4 separate regions of the Homo sapiens genome follow, and all the other regions are linked to region 2. Evidence: fine-mapped expression QTL. A gene starts in region 2. Each other region holds a variant in brackets. All regions are shown on one strand. Distances are from middle to middle. Region 1 has its middle 35 kb from the start of FAM87A. Region 2 holds the start of FBXO25 (F-box protein 25). Region 3 overlaps FBXO25 (F-box protein 25). Region 4 overlaps FBXO25 (F-box protein 25).

What was found. PIP is the estimated chance that this variant, and not a neighbour inherited with it, causes the effect. A credible set is the group of variants that fine-mapping cannot tell apart.
Region 1: its variant is the best candidate, but not a certain one, in a credible set for the expression of FBXO25 in whole blood (TOPMed, PIP 0.67).
Region 3: its variant is the best candidate, but not a certain one, in a credible set for the expression of FBXO25 in fibroblasts (GTEx, PIP 0.63).
Region 4: its variant is the best candidate, but not a certain one, in a credible set for the expression of FBXO25 in unexposed skin (GTEx, PIP 0.78).

What each region holds. Positions count from the first base shown.
Region 1 is chr8:346,439-350,657 of GRCh38, forward strand. No RefSeq gene overlaps it. Among named protein-coding and RNA genes, the nearest start is that of FAM87A, 35 kb to the right of the region's middle. RefSeq lists an enhancer at 3,289-3,822. The variant C/G (reference allele first, on the strand shown) is at 2,300.
Region 2 is chr8:405,068-409,286 of GRCh38, forward strand. It overlaps FBXO25 (F-box protein 25), which reads left to right and starts at 1,891. Exons shown (of 10, transcript NM_183420.2): 1 at 1,891-1,999. RefSeq lists a silencer at 1,614-2,023.
Region 3 is chr8:452,216-456,215 of GRCh38, forward strand. The region is part of intron 7 of FBXO25 (F-box protein 25); the gene reads left to right. Among named protein-coding and RNA genes, the nearest start is that of FBXO25, 47 kb to the left of the region's middle. The variant A/G (reference allele first, on the strand shown) is at 1,675.
Region 4 is chr8:467,034-471,238 of GRCh38, forward strand. FBXO25 (F-box protein 25) reads left to right here. Exons shown (of 10, transcript NM_183420.2): 10 at 1,682-4,205. The coding sequence ends at 1,771. Among named protein-coding and RNA genes, the nearest start is that of FBXO25, 62 kb to the left of the region's middle. The variant G/T (reference allele first, on the strand shown) is at 2,335.

The DNA.
Region 1 (4,219 bases), 59 kb before region 2:
GGGCTGGTATTTTCTATCAAGTCGTCAAATCTCTGCAAATCTAATTATCCTCCTTCAGTGTGCCAGACAGAAAGTGGTAGCGGCAAGGAGCTTTATCTTACATCCCAGATCAAGTTTGTCTTGATCACCAGTGTCCTCCGCATGGATGACCTACTTTAGGTGCTGCCCGTTGCTGGTGGGTGATAGTGAAATCTTTCAATTTAAGGAGAAATTAAGTGAAATCACCCCACAGCCGAGGCTCACATTCCACCAGGTCATCTGCAGCTTGGGTTTGAGCCTCACAGGACAGGGTTTCAGCAGTAGCTGATAAATGAGCTGTGCGTGGATTCCAGGGGCACGATAACACACTCTCTCCCGGAAGACGGAAGACGTGGAGTTGTTTAGGGAATTCACAGAACCGAACCGCCTGGAAGGGAACTGTGGGTCTCCCTCACCACAGGCAGTCGCAGAGCTGGGAAGAGGGTGGATCCAGGCTCTGTGGGGCTGGGGGCTGAGCCAGGGCAGGAGCCTCTTTAAGAATTCACACGTCCTCACTCTTGCGTGCCAGTTAGATAATGTGAGCCTGGAGACGCAGAGCATGGAATAACAGTCATTGGAGGCTCAGAAGGGGAGGAGGGTGGGGAGGTGAGGGGGAGGATTACTTAAGGGTAGAATGTTCATTATTTGCGTGATGGTGACACCGGAGACTTCATCGCTGTGCAATATGTGCAAGTAACTGCACTTGCACCCCCTACATTTATACAAATAAAAAATAAATACATAATAAAATGCAAAGAAAGAAGAAGAAGAATTCAGCAAAACAACACAGGCACAGCCCCTGAAGGTGAGGGGCTCAGAGCTCCAGCTTCAAGAGCTTGGGGCAAATCCACCCCGGGGAGGAGCGTCCGAGGCGGCCCTCGGGCGGGAGCCTGAAGACAGCCCGTGCCTCTGTGACCCAGCCACCGTCGGATCCGCTGTGTTGATTACCCTTTCCTATGGAGAACTGCCTCCATCACCACGCGGTCTGTGTGCGTTGACATCGGGACTGATACAAGTTTCTTGACTGAAGTTCAGGCAAGAGAACAGTGATGCCCCAGAGAGCAGCCCTGGCCCCTGGACAGCCAGCAACATGCGGGAACATCAGAGACAGGCGGGTGCTTGGTTGCCTCCTGGCCCGGCCTTCCCCACTAGGAGGATGAGCCTCGCAGCCCTGCCAAGCATGCCTGACGCATCTGGAGCCAGAGGAAACTCCATCTGAGAAACAGAACTAAGTCTCCAGTGGCAAACAAGGGTGCATTCAGAGGAATGAGATGATGGGGAAAAAAGAGAAGAGGGACAGATTCTCCAGTCCATTGGCTCAAGGCAGACAGCCTCGCTTGGTACTTCTTTAAAAGAAATGTTACAAATTTGAATCTAAGTACGCTTTGTTTATATAGCCAAGCATGTTTGGCTTTCCTATTTTATAGCCAGACATCTTTTAAAATGAAAATAAATATTTCTTATATAATTCATATGATTCTGGTAAATCTGTTAGAAAATTATTCTAGAAAGAAAAAAAAGACTGTCCTTTTATTGAGTCACTGTCTACTCTTTTAATTCCTATGTTTATCGATCATATTTGAAAATTGAAGCATTTGAAAGAAATACAGAAAACTTGAATACCAAAACAAACATCTGTGCCTGTTCTTTCACGTACATGACAATACACATCACTGATTCCATATGAAAACCAAGATTTAAAATGTGAAAAGTAGTAATCACAATTATGCCTAAAAAAGCAGTGCCTACATACAAAACCTGTCTGAATAAAGTCAGTTTGTGTCTGCCAATCTCATCAGGAGGAATTGAACCCAGAGCCCAGCCCAGGGACCAGCGCTAATGAAGTCTGTGAATGTGGGGTCGCCTGGAGCTCGAGCTGGTGTCGGTCTCTCTCATTCCTGCAGACTTAGAAGATGAAGCAGACTTGATAAAAGTGGGATTTTAAAAATATTAATTTATAGATGCTTAATAGATATTAAAGCAATATTTTCTACAGTCAGTTGAGTTTGGGTACCGCCGAGTGAGATAACACTATTTCAGGACTTCTGAAGGCATCCGCTGTGTTCATGTGCAGGGACCCATGAGGACACTCAGTAGGCAGTCACCAGGTGTCCCCGGCCACAAGGGCCTTTCACGTTTTTCCCCAAAGCATTTCATGGGGCTGGTGTTCCGTGGGATACAATGAAGGAAGTGCTTCATTCAACAGTTTCTCAATACAGCTTCCTAGGAACAAAATCGTTATTTCAAATTTACCAGAGTGTGTTAACATTAATTTATCAGA[C/G]TCCAACACACTAATCTCTTATCAAATAATTCTAGTTATTTTTATTATCACTAGATGAGAGTGATACAGAGGTAATATATTTCCAGGAAAAAACACTGGGCAGAGTTCAGGAGCTATGCGTGAAGTGTGGTCCTAGCTACATTAAGTTGTAGCCATGAGACATTTAAAACTTTTCTTTATCTGTTTAAAATCCAAGTGTAATCATAATGTGTTAATTCGGTTTAATAATGTATTAATAATTTAAATATAATTTTAGTAGGAGAGCTTCTGTGTGTTCCATTTTTAATGTCTCCACAGCTTGAACTAGGACACCTTTCCTTTGATCCACACAATTGTTCCAATTTGGACACATAGTCCTCTTAACTCTCCTTTGCTTAGCTCAGTCCCACCACTGCACTGAATGAGACACTTTCAGTCACCGATCTGTATGGTACAATCTGAAATGAAACATCCATTTTGAGCATTGCCAATAATCATGATGCCAAATTCATATCATGAAAACTTTAAGCACTATCATGGAGAATTCAGTGTGTGCAAATATATTGCATTATGTCAACTTCTCTGAGATATGCGTTTTGTAGTGTGTCTGCAATGTGCAGACCAAAGGAGGGGAGGGATCCAGCTTGGGCTTGAAGCCTGCTCAGTGTCGATTGAAGACAATTCTGGGTTTGTCAGAAATCCATTTGCAGAAGGAGCCAGAAGGCTTTGGAGAGATATGTCATTTTAGGGAAGAGGGTTGAGAGAACTATGTTTTCCCACATGAGTCAGACGCAGAGCAGAAGCGTGGGGACGCGGTGCCTGGAGGACCCAGACCAGTGGGTGCTGGTCTTCCCAGGTCAGGGCACCAACCTCACACAAGGCCAGAGAGAGGAGGTGTCCTGTGGCCCTCACTAAGCCACAGGCGCCTCCATACAACAGAACCCACAAGACGACATCACCTGGAGAGGCCACGAGGGACGTTCCTCCGGAGCACTGAGCCGGGACTGCGACAAGGGGTCCTAGCAGGGAGCCACGAGGGCACCGGCCCCTCCGTCCACATCCTCCAGGCTCGGAGGCCTCTGCCCTGATGCCTGAGGCTGGATGGGACAGGGACAGAGAGAAGCTATGCAGAGCCCATGGAGGGAAGACCCAACCTGCAGGGGCGGCTTCTTCATGAGCTGCAGGGAGCCCAGCAGAGGAAGGGCCATGATGGGGCAAAGGAGGGGGAAGCTGTGAGTAAGGACATGGCCTCCAGCGAAGCATCCCATGTGGATTTAGGGATGGCCTAGGATCTCTGAATGGATTCAGTTAACAGGCATCAAAGAAACACTCCCAAGTGCATGAAGGAATTGAGTACGAGATAAAACATCAGTTCTAATCACTGGAGGGGCAACGGATGGCTCAGTAGTTTGGGGATATGTGGTTAGCCATTCAGAAATAAAATAAACTGAATTCTATTTTACTAATTAGGTAGGCAGGTAGATAGGTAAGTAAGTAGGTAGGCAGGTGGATAGGTAGGTGGCTAGATGGGTAGACAGATAAGTAAGCAGGCAAGTAGGCAGGCACGTAGGCAGGTAGGTAGGTAGATAGGTAGGCAGGTAGGTACATAAGTAGGTAGATAGGTAGATAGATAGGCAGGTAGGGAGGTAGATAGGCAGGTAGGCAGGTAGGTAGATAGGTAGTTAGCTAGGTGGGTATATAGGTAGGTGGCTAGATATGTAAGCAGGTAGATAAGTAGGTAGCAGGTAGATAGGTAGGTGGCTAGATGGTAGGCAGGTAGATAGGTAAGTAGGTAGGTAGGTGGCTAGATGGCAGGCAGGGAGGTAAGTAGGTAGATAGGCAGGCAGGTAAGTAGGTAGGTAAATAAGAAGGCAGGCAGGTAGGTAGGTAGATAGTCAGGTACACAGGTAGGTAGGTAGATAGGAAAGCAGGTAGGTAGGT
Region 2 (4,219 bases):
CTAGGAATTGTGAGGATGCTAGCCAATTGGGCTAAATTTAATATTACTATGTCCCCCATTGTGGTGGTGGGGTCTTGGCTTGGCAATTTCTACTAGTATTCCATATGCAGTTAACCTTGACACATCAGTGAAAGAAAAATAAAATTTCAGGCCTCCAAACTTACTATGCCAAAGGGAAAAGTTAATATTGGCAAAACACACACACACACACACACACACACACACACACACACACGCAGTCTTCTTTTTGTTCCCAAAAGCTTACTTTATCTTATGTGAAATGTAGATCTACTGAGTATGAGACAGATGCATAACCCTCCCCCATACCTTTCTTTTCACATGTGAAATGTAGATTTGCTGTACTCTAATCAGAGCCTCACAAAAATGTGACCACTTGCCTCATAGCCTACTCTCCCCTCTTTCCCCTCCTACCGGCGCTTTTCCCTTAAATATTTGGAAAAAAGTACAGGCCAAAAATCCTACTGTAACCTGTGTTTCTTTTTCCCCAGACACGTCCACGATTTTGGCAGAATAAACCTCTAAATCAGTTGTGATCTGCCTCAGACACTTTTTGCTTTACACAACAATCCAATCATAGCGATTTATTTGGAAATATACCTTCACAAGTTAAATCAGACCACAGCGCTACTGGGCATTATTTATAATGGCAAACTATTGCAAACAATTTAAAACCTATCATAGACATCATAGAAACTATTCTAATAAATTGATACATTTATATAATAGAATAATCCGCAACCTTGAAGGGAATGAAGGAAGGAATAAAGAGAGAGGGAAAGGAAGAAAAGAACGGAGAGAGGGAAGGAGGGACAGACAGGTGTTTAAATTGGGGATGTGCAAGCAATATTGCCTACTTCATTGCCTTCACATTATTTAAAAGCATGTGGTCAAGAAACACTATTATAATAAGCACTTCAGAAATAACTTCTAAAATTACTTTTCCAAAATATGAATCCATACTATACACTTCCTGTAATGTGCACCACATGTAGATGCACACATTTTAACAAGGAAAAGACTAATACTCATATTTGCTTGCTACACACCAGACACTGTTTTAAATGTTTTGCACACGCTAACTCATTTGTTCTTATGGAAATCCTGTAGCGTGCACCGCCACCTCCATGTTTCTAGGCGGAAACTGAGGCACGGGGGCTGCGGCTCCTGGACCCACCTGGCCTTCTCGGCCTGCCTCTCTCCCTCCAGCCGCCCCACATTCTTTTTTCCTAATTGGAAAAAACTATTCACGCTGCTCCTCCAGGGCATTTCAACCTTCTAGAAAGATTCGACAAGATTCGAAACTGTTTATAAAGAGAACGTGCTTGTGCCCGAATGCTGAGTGTGAGCGCGCAGTGATGCCCTAGAGTGCAGTCATCCCGGGCTTGGCGCCCAGCGGGTGGAAATACGGCCGCAGGGTGGAAATGCGGCGGCGGGGCTGCCCAGGCTCCTGTGGGACCCGCGCGGCGCGGGCACGCACATTCTCAGGGACGCGCGTCCTCAGGCCACGAGAACACCTGAAGGCCCCGGCCAGCGTCCTCCCGTGAAGACCCGGACCGGCGTCGTCACCCGCCGCGCAGGCCTAAATCTCAGGTCTTCACCGTCATCTCCCAGCGATCGCAGGGATCTCAGGCACTGACCGCGCCCGTCCCTGCGCACCCGAGCCCCACCCCACGCCCCCACGCCCCCACGCCTCCACGCCCGGCACTCTGGACGCGCGCGGACGGAGGGGCAGTGCCTACTACGCAGGCGCACGCTGCGGGCGACAGGACCAGGCAGCAACATTGCCACGCGGATCCGCGCCGGCCAATCAGCATGGCCAGGGGCGGGGCTTCCCTGAGGCGCGCCGGGAGGCGGCGGCCCACTTCCGGCAATAACCGCCTGGTCGCCGTCAGGTGCGGGCCCAGGTGGCCGGCGCGCCCGTTGGGCACTGGGGGACGCGGGCGCGTCAGGTGAAGACTGGGGGCCGCAGGCGCGCTAGGTAGGTGCGGGGTGCAGCGGGCGCGTCAGGTGAAGACTTGGCGCCGCAGGCGCGTTAGGTGAAGATTGGGGCTCGCGGGCGCGTCAGGTGGGGACGACGGGCCACGGGCGAGTCAGGTGAAGACCGGGGGCGGCGGGCGCGTCAGGGGAAGACATGGGGTCGCGAGCGCGTCAGGTGGGGACGGGGCCTGTGGGAGGGTCAGGTGGGGACCGGGGGCCTCGGGCGCGTCAGGTGGGGACGGGGTTGTCGCGGGCGCGTCAGGTGGGGACGGGATTGCCGCGTGCGCGTCTGCTGAAGTCTGGGTCCGCGGGCGCGTCAGGTAGGGACGATGGGCCGCGGGCGCGTCAGGTGGGGTCTGGGGGCGGCCGGCGGGTGTGGAGGGTTCATTCAGGGAGCTGCGGGCGAGTCGGGTGGGCACGGGGGCCGCCCACAGGTGCACCGCGCGTCCTCAGCCGCTTCCCCTGCCCACCTTCTGCGACCCCTTCCCGCCCCCACCCTCCTGGGCCGTCTTGCAGGCCCGAGCTTGTGTCCGCCTCGCTGGGCAAGGTGTTTCGGGGACGACTCCTGCCGGCGTTTGCCCTCCGGGCTCGGTCCTTGCCTCTTCGCCGGTGGGCACCTGCTAGGTGTGACCCCTCATTCCTCCAGGCCACTCTGCCCCGTCTGCTGCTTACCTTTTTTTCCCTACTCCTGGTCTGTGGCTCTGGCTCTGTCTCTGTCTCCTCCCTTAATTTCTTTCCATGCTTATTTTTCTTGCAGCAGACACTAATTTTGCATCCTTCCCCTCACAGTAAGCTCAATTTGACCTTTTTCTCAATTAGATTCCACCTCTGTCCTTGGGCCTATTCAAACTCATTTTGAAGACTAAAGAATCTAGAGAACCATTTCTTCCCTTATGAAGCTGTCTCTTGCTGCCTCCAAATCCTTACCATCCGGCCCTAATCAGAAAAGACGTTTACTCTTTCATATTCTGTTTTCTCCTCGTCTTTACGTGTTTACCTTTCCCATGAGGAATCTGTGATTATCTGTAAGTCCTTAGAGTACAACTTATTTCTGACTCTCAGCCCTCAGTTTGCCATTTTTTAAAATGTCCTTTCTGGATCAAATTTGTCCACACTTATAAGCAAAACAAATAGGGAAACACATGTGGTCTTTTAAGATGGATTGGAGTTTTCTTTCCTGTGTTGTATTCCTTGTTTTAGTGCCTTTGTATTTAGGTTCATCATTACTTGAAATCATATTAGTGATCTGTAATAGACGGTAAAAAAAAAAAAAGTTAAAAAGCTTATAATTTAATGGCATCTGTTTTAATAGGGTTTTCAGGAACTGCTATTATAAACATAGTGGTTAGGAGCATGGATCCTGGAGTGAGACTCCATCATTTTGAATCCCAGCTCCACTGAACTCTTTGCCTCAGTGTCTTCATCTTTAAAATACATAATGAAACTTGTAAAACAAGAATAATGTTTTCTACCTTGGAGGACAGTGTGAGGATTAAATGAGACAACATATGTAGATTGTTTAGAGTAATGCGTAGCCTATGGTAAGCTCTAATAAATGTTTGCCATTATTATTGTTAAGAAAAAATATGCTTGTTGAAGGAAAGACATTTTTTTTTGTTCTGAGTCTCTCATGCCAAGAGTTTCCACCAGCAAATGAACTTCATGAAGTCCTTTTCTACTGAAGTATCCCACCCACGTGTCCTACCACATGAAATAGAAATTAAGGGAAGATTTTAAATAGTTAATCATTGTAGGCTGTCTGAAATAAGTTGGCATAAAATGTGCTTAAAATTTGCAAATTATACAAGCTACACCCTTTGAGTGCTTGCTCTTAAAAGTTTAATAATTTTCAGGAGTAATTTCTAGTTTTTTTGTGTTTGTAAATTCCCAAAATAAAGGTAATTTTAATTAAAATAAGCGTATAAAGCTCTAGCAATTCACATTTTTTAGCTGAACAAATACATTCCCATTGAAAGCCGTGGGTCATCATCATTCTATAAAACTTTAGTAGCATTGTTTTCTGATTTGCAAACTCAGAAGCCTCAGTTTGGGAGTATTTTTGAAAACTTGAGATCCAGACCCCAGACGTTTTAAATTGCAACTTGTCTTTTTTTGTTGGTGGTGTTGTTTTTAATCTGCATCCAGAGTTTGTGCTTTAGTTCATGAGCTGTATAGATTATGCTTTAAGAAAAACTTCATTGTGATCCATAGAGCATACCAT
Region 3 (4,000 bases), 47 kb after region 2:
ATATGGGATTTACAAAAAGAGTGATGATTGCCTAGTTATGAGTCTGAAATTATCCTTAATAATGTAACATTCAGCGTCAGTAAGAGTTAAGCAAGTTTGTTATAAACGTTGGATTCTTTGTTCTGTTGTTGTCTTGGTGTGACCCTACAGTCATTCAAAGCTTTGCACAGGCTGGCTCTTCGCTGCCTCTTTTACTGCGTTCCCCATGCATAGGTGGGTTGTGCTAAAAGTCCATCTGTAAGACACTTATGCATGGCATGGGGCTTGCTGTAGAAGTCCTAACATGAGTGGCGAGGCCACATGGCCAAAGTCCCCTTTCTCCTGATGAGGCAGATCCGTGGTAGTGATGTTCAGCAGGTGACCTTCTGGGGAGAGAATAGGGTGTGTCCTTGTCCATGGTGGGTTTTCATGGTCAGGATCCCAAGGAAGGGGGTGTTTGGGAAAGGCCAAACACCAGACCAGGAAGCAGCCTTTCTTGTCTGGCTGGGAAGTTCCAGGTAGGATTAGTGGCTCTGCATTCTTTGGAGAGAGATGTGGAGCCAGTGGAGAGATGTGCACCGGTGGAGACAACAGCGAAGCTCCAAGGATTGGGCCACACCTCACCAAGAGGAGAGAAAGGAGAAAGCAAGGGACAAGCTTGCATCTTTGACTGGGTGGGCCGAGACAGAGCAGGAAGGCATGGCTGTATGCTGAGCTTCCTTCTGGATCTTCTTTCCATTCATACTACCTGGGAGAGGCACGGGCTGAGGGATAATAGTGCATGTGGCCCCAGCTTGCCCCACTCAGTGCTGACCATAGCCAGTGAAGGAAGACACTCTGCTTTTGGCCCGGGATGGTTCTTACAGCCCTGGTAGGCAGAGCACACTTACGTGGCAATACCTCTCTGCCTCAGCACAGAAGGATAGGTGTTACTGTAGTGCCATTTTGATCAAGTGGGAAAAATAAGGTACAAAAATGAAATTAATGTTTAATCTTTGGGGAATAAGAAAGCGCTGATGATAACACAAAGGTGCCAGTTTTCGTCATGTCCACTCAAATCTTACCATCAGAGACCTTGAACTTGTTTCTTCTCTTTCATTAGTGGTTGCATGCTGCCTGGCATCTCTTCACCTGAGTCCCTGGGTGCTCTCTGGAGCACGCAGCTTGGCATGTGCCTCTGTGAGGATCTTGGCTTCTGGACCCTGTGCCCTGCTTCTAGCCTCGAGGAGGGTCAGGTTCCCTTGTAGGAGTTGGCCAGAGGAGTTTTACCTTTCTGGGAATGTTACTTGAAACCAGTAGAAAGAGCACTTTACCAGCTCAGTTAACTGAGCTGCATTTGTAGATGCCGGACTCAGTCAGCCAAATTGGTCTAAGGCTGCTTAAGGTAAAGACCTGGTCTCCTGACCTGCTGGCTGATGCTGGATTGCTGCCTCCCGCTTATTCACGTGAATTTTGAGGTGACTCAAGCAGATGGGGTTAGAACAGAGCAGCTGAGAGCCTTCCCGGATCCCTGAGAGTGGAAGTCCAAGCACACCGCCTGAAGTTCCGCCATGTCAGCCTCAGGATATAGGGCCAGCTTTCTCCAGTGAGCTGACAGTTGTCTTTGTCTTCTAGATTATCCCAACAAGAAATACCTTGACACCCCTGGCCGGGCGCGGTGGCCCACACCTGTAATCCCAGCCACTTTGGGAGGCC[A/G]AGTCAGGTGGATCACCTGAGGTCAGGAGTTCGAGACCAGCCTGGCCAGCATGGTGAAACGCTGTCTTTACTAAAAATACAAAAATTGGCCAGGTGTGGTGGCAGGTACCTGTAGTCACAGCTACTCGGGAGGCTAAGGCAGGGGATTTGCTTGAACCCGGGAGGTGGAGGTTGCAGTGAGCCGAGATCGTGCCATTGCACTCCAGCGTGGGCGACAAGAGTGAAACTCCGTCTCAAAAAAGAAATACCTCGACACCCCTTAAATCTAAATACTCATAGTCCCAAAAGTAAGCAGAAATTTAGTATATATTTGTGTTGTAAAGTTCCTAAGAACATCAGAAATTTTTTTTCTTGTGAAACAAATATACTTTGCTGTTTAAGCTGCATTTGAAGATATGGCAGTGCTAATGAATTGGAAGTGCTTTCATGTGCACATCTCTGTGACTCAGTGAGAGCAGGCACACAGGTATGTGTTCACATGCTTCCTCACCCCGTCAGCACTTCCTAGATGCCCCCATGTGCTCGCTGGGCCCATCATGAGGTGGGACACATGGATCAGCAGGCGTAGCCTTTAGCATGGGGCCTCCGAGGGACCCAGGGAGATGAGCACATGATGTGTCACAGAACTCAGTGGGGTGTTATAACAGATATGCACACAGGGCTGTTGACATTACATTGGTTCACAAGTGATGTGATGTTTTAGGTGGAGCTTAAAGAATGGGCCGGGCGCGATGGCTCACGCCAGTAGTCCCAGCACTTTGGGAGGCCGAGGTGGGCAGATCACAAGGTCAAGAGATAGAGACCATGCTGGCTAACACGGTGAAATCCCATCTCTACTAAAAATACAAAAAATTAGCCGGGCGTGGTGGGACGTGCCTGTGGTCCCAGCTACTTGGGAGGCTGAGGCAGGAGAATTGCTTGAACCCAGGAAGCAGAGGTTGCAGTGAACTGAGATCACACCACTGCACTCCAGCCTGGGTGACAGAGGGAGACTCCATCTCAAAAAAAGAAAAAGAAAAAGAAAACAAAGAATGAGGGGAGAGTATCCAGGTGATGGCCTCCTGGTCAGTGCTTAACAACTGGCTCTCCAGGGGCAAGAGGTTTGATTTGTAGCCTTTGTCAGCTTCCCACTATGACTGACTTCAAGCCACCAACAAAAAGTAAACTGGCTAACGAAATTCCCAGAAGTTGCAGAATTGACTCCTGTGAGAAGGTATGGGAACTTCCGCATCCAGGGGCTAATAAAGTGTGTTATGCCAAATGTGTGGACTGCTTGGAGGAAGGTGCAGGGGATTAGGACCAGACTCAGGGCTTTGTGGGCATTGCAGAGCCTTTGCTGCTCTCTGCCAAGGGTCATTGAAAGGTCCTTGTTTAGAGGTCCCCTTCAGTGCCAGGCAGGGACCAGCCAGGTTGGAGGGAAGTAAACCCTCATTGCATTCATGAGCAGTGACAGTGAAATGGGAAGAATGAACTTGGGGATACTTGAGCAAAAGAGTAGACTGGTGACTTTGAAGTGGGTGCGAGGGAAGGAAGAATTGAGGGAGACTTCAGTGACTCACCACATATTGAGGGGATGGGCCTCCCATGGAGAAGGGCAGAGCAGTTGGGAACACGGACTTGGGGCCAGGCAGACTGGGCTCGAGGCTGGACCTCGATCTTGGGCAAGCCAGTCAACTCATCTGTATCTCTGTTTTTTTTCTGTGTAAAATAGAATGATAATAGCAACACAAGTTTCTGTTAGCAGAAGTGCTTCCACAGAGAAGTGGGAATCATTGACAGTTGCATGCAATAGCTGAGACTATCCTAAAGCAAGAGAAGCAGCAGCATCGTTTCTTCCTTCCAGTGCAGTGTAGGTGTGAGAGATTTCATGATGGCAGAGAGCATGTAGCTAATCAGTGGAGGAAGTGCAGCAAAAAACGCAGCAGGATTTCTGACATGTTCAGCAAGACTTTTGTGCCTTGTCACATTTCGAGATTTCGTTTGGATGAGAAGTGCTGGCATTTCTGCGACACCCTCTTGTTATAGCCATTAACAGGGATGTAAAACTGGACTCTGCCAGAAATCCCAAATGCTGAGTTGTCACACCAGACTCTATAACTCTACTAATCCGGGATTTTTTTTCTTCGTACTACCTTCATACCACCACTTCATGCTACCTTTAAAGTTTGTAATTTTAGCAGCAGAATATTTGTAAACTACTGTCTGCTACAGAAATTTTTCTCAGTAGGAATTAGAATGAAGCACCTGGAAGACATAATTCTTGTGAGAGTGTTAGACTTTTAGTTAGGGGTTAATTTACTTGCACGTTATCTTTTTGTTTTGTTTT
Region 4 (4,205 bases), 62 kb after region 2:
CAGGCCTGTGTGGACATCAGGAGCAAAGTTGGAGCCAGAATCCAAGATGAGGTGTCCATGGTCTGGTGGTCCTGGTCTTGCAGGGGAACCGCTTTGCTAGTAGCATCCTGAACCAGCGGGGGAGAACAGCACAGGAGGGCAGCTGCTGAGGCTTGGGTCTGTGTTGGAAAGTGGCATTCACTGGCCTGGAGGAACAAGTGTCAGAGGTGGAGGCTGGCTTAAGGGCATGTGTGGAATTGACTTAATGTGCATTACTGAGCACAGAGCAGAGCCTTCGGATGTTAAATGAAGAACAAAGAACTTTCCCCAAAAAAATCTGTTATAAAGTTTTAATATAAACTGCACATGGAAATAGCATCTCTTCTTCAGTGAATAATTTTAAAGGTTATTTAGCACTGCAGCCTCATTAGTTGCCAAATTTGAAAGACTTAAAGGTAGAGATATGTTGTCTTAAGACTGTCTTCAAGTAGTTTGGGAATTTTTGGGTTATCTGATGAGAACTTGTTTGCTTTTAATAACCTTGTACTGTCCAAATTTAGTTACCTGATGTTTTTAGTTATTTTCGTAAATAATATGAATCAAACCTGAATGCTTAGATACACTCTGGCTCTTTCTAATCTTAACTTTTCCTTTTTTTCCCTCCCTTCACTGCATTCCTTCCTGATTCTTTCTTCATGATCTCGAAGGACTACCATCTTGCTTTACTATTCAAGGTACTTCCCTGTCTTGCCACACATCCTGTGTTCGGGATGAAAACGTTGCATCGTGCTGCATCTCATGCACGTCATCTTGGCCACTGCCCGGCTCGATTCCAGCTCTCGCTGACTTGAGCTTTCTCAGGACCCTGAGCAGGGCTGAGTGGCCACTTTGATCAAACACCTCAGCAAGGACGAGAGTGTTGATGAAATATTTTGCAGAACAACACCTGAGTGCTGAGGGAGGCTGCTAGATGTGCGCATAAACACTTCACCACACAGCACCTGGTTTGGCAGCACTGCCAGGGCATGCCATGGAGAGATCCAGCACTGACCCCAGAGCCTCTGGTCCCGTTTACCTGCGTTCCTCCTAAGAGTCTGCCAGTCTTCATCCACAAAATTAATTTTTCTGTCGTCACTTCTCATATTAAATATAATTCTGGATCCTTAGGTATGTGAGCATGGCCAGCTCCCTTGGAGCAAGCAGGAGCCTTGGGGGCTGAGGCCGTGTGTCCCCCTCTCCTGTCCTATGCAGGGAGCCCAAGCTGATTCAGGGATGAATGGCGGGTGGAGGGAACCCTGTGTAACAAAGTGAGCCAGGAACAGGAGGACAGGACAAAGGAATGGCTGGGACCAGAGGACAGAAAGTCCCCAGTGGTTTCTTCTGTGGCCTTGTAGATTCCGGGGCAGTGCAGGGTGGTGTCAGCAGCTGGCTCCTCTGACTCAGTACCAGATTCGGCACTGGAGGGCAGACCTGGGGCCACCGTCTCCTGCCCTACCTGAGCAGGAGTTCCATGGGAAACCTCTATGTAGAATCGGCTGCGGCTGCCCTTGTGTTGGTCATTCTCATCCAAGTTATCTCCCATGTACCTCTGAGGTGGGGCCCAGGGTCCACATCAACAAGCAGCTGACGACCCCTCAAGCACCATCACTAGAGTGTGGCTGGTGGTGGGGCCCCCTCCTAACCATCTCCCACCTCCCCACAGGACTCAGGACACCCCTGCACGGCGGCCGACCCTGACAGCTGCTTCACGCCTGTGTCTCCGCAGCACTTCATCGACCTCTTCAAGTTTTAAGGGCTGCCCCTGCCATCCCTATTGGAGATTGTGAATCCTGCTGTCTGTGCAGGGCTCATAGTGAGTGTTCTGTGAGGTGGGTGGAGACTCCTCGGAAGCCCCTGCTTCCAGAAAGCCTGGGAAGAACTGCCCTTCTGCAAAGGGGGGACTGCATGGTTGCATTTTCATCACTGAAAGTCAGAGGCCAAGGAAATCATTTCTACTTCTTTAAAAACTCCTTCTAAGCATATTAAAATGTGAAATTTTGCGTACTCTCTCTCTCTATATATATAGTTCAAAAATACTTTAGGTGGTCAGCTCCACATTCTTTGTTGACGTGACACTAACGGCCAATAATATGCTTCTTAATTATCAAATTATAGTTTCCCAATTGGGAAACTAATTGGGGGTGGGTTACAAAACATTTGATCCTTGTAAATACATTGTACAGAATATTTATTTTTTCTCAAAATGCATTTTAACTACTACATTGGCTGTGCCCAAATGAGTCCTCTTTGAATAGAAAGTGAACCCAGGGCAATGACAGCCATTCTTGTCTTAGGGATTATGGATCGGGGTATGAA[G/T]TGTGCACACGCAGCCCAACAACGGGCAGTGGTCTCTGTGCTCCTAGGCATCCAGCACAGGTTCTGGCAGGGCACCCCTGCTGGGGTTGGGGGCTGGTCTGTGCATAATCCTGGACTGTGATGGGAACAGCCCAGTGCAGTCTAAACTTCAATTGTGTTGAAACTACTTTAATAGACAAAGTAATAAATCATGTTTATCTATTGATTTAAACTTCATCAGTTTTGCATCCTACTGAGAAATGTTAGTGATTTTGATACTTAAATCCTTAAAAGATTGCTTCGTTTTTAAAATAACGCATGTCCATTTTAGAAAATTAGAAAATCAGTCCCACCACCCAAAGATTATTGTGCATGCTGAAAAGAGTATGAAAAATCCCCTCAGCAGGCATAGGATAGAAACGTATTGTTGTATATTTCCATTTTTGAATAGGGTCAAGGAGCCCAAGCAAATCATTTCTACTTTTTCCTTTAAGCATAATAATAAAAGTATACTTTTATGGCGTTATAAATAGGACTAAAAAAAGATTCTGGATTTTTCAGCCCCACTTCTGTGAACTGACACAAATGGCCAAGAATGCATTTATTTGTCAAATTATAGTTTCTCCTGAGGCGATGCAAATACCTGGGGCCTCTGCGAATATATGTTAGTTTTTCATAAGACCATAAATGTCCCGTATACCACTGTTACTTCACAACGCCCCCCGTCCCGACCCTGCCTTTTTTTAGAAACGTAGAACCATATCCTAAATGTTATTTGGAAACTTGGCTTTTATTAGCTCCACAGAATCACCCAGATGGAACAGGCTTTTTCATCACAACATATTGGGGTTCCTGAGTGTCTCGCCGTTAGCATCAATAACTATGATAAGCATCGTCACACAACAATGTGGCCGTCTCCTTACAACCACTGGTAGTACAGCCAACATCATGAGTCAAACATATTTTAAGGCTTTTAAATATATTTCTAGATTGTTCATGAAAAAAAATTTTTTTGGAGTTTGTTTTTGAGACAGGGTCTTGCTCTGTCACCCAGGCTGGAGTGCAGGGGTATGATGTCGGCTTACTGCAACCTCTGTCCCCCAGGCTCAAGTGATCCTCCCACCTCACCCTCCAGTGATCCTCCCACCTCAGCCTCCCAAGCAGTCAGGACCACAGGCATATACCACCATGCTCAGCTGTTTTTTTGTATTTTTAGTAGAGATGGGGTTTCACCATGTTGCCCAGGCTGGTCTCAGGAGTTTGAGCTCAAGCAATCCACCTGCCTCAGCTTCCCAAAGTGCTGGGATTACAGGCATGAGCCACCACGTCCAGCTGAGAAAAGAAATTGTTCTAATCTAGGAAAGGGAGTAAGTACATTGAGTTTCCATTATCCCTGAAGCACAGGTATTTCTTTTTCTGTTGGTGCTGTTTTAATAAGTGAAGAATTTGATGTATGATAAATTGTGAGCTTGAATATTTCCATATATTTATTATCCATTTGCTTTTCTTGTTTTTGGTAAATTACTTAATGTGGTATTTGCCTGTTTTTTGGGGTGGATGTCAGTCTTTTTTCATGTTAGTTTCTTCTTAAAAGGAAACTATCCTTTTGAAGTTGTGGTTCTTTCCCCTAATTTGTCATATACTGTTACTGTCATTTAATTGTTAGATGTTATAACAGTTCTCAGCTGTGCTATCAAATCACAGATGTGCATTTAACTTGTATAAATTGAGCAGTACTTGCTTGGAAAACATAACCATATTAATAGTGTAGGATTCCAGCTGTTCTGCTGGGCTGGCATATTTCCACAGGCCATGGACACAGCTAGCCGCATTGCCACTGCATGGGTCACAGCCTCCTGCAGGTGCGTTCGAGGGACAAGCTGTGGGAGCTG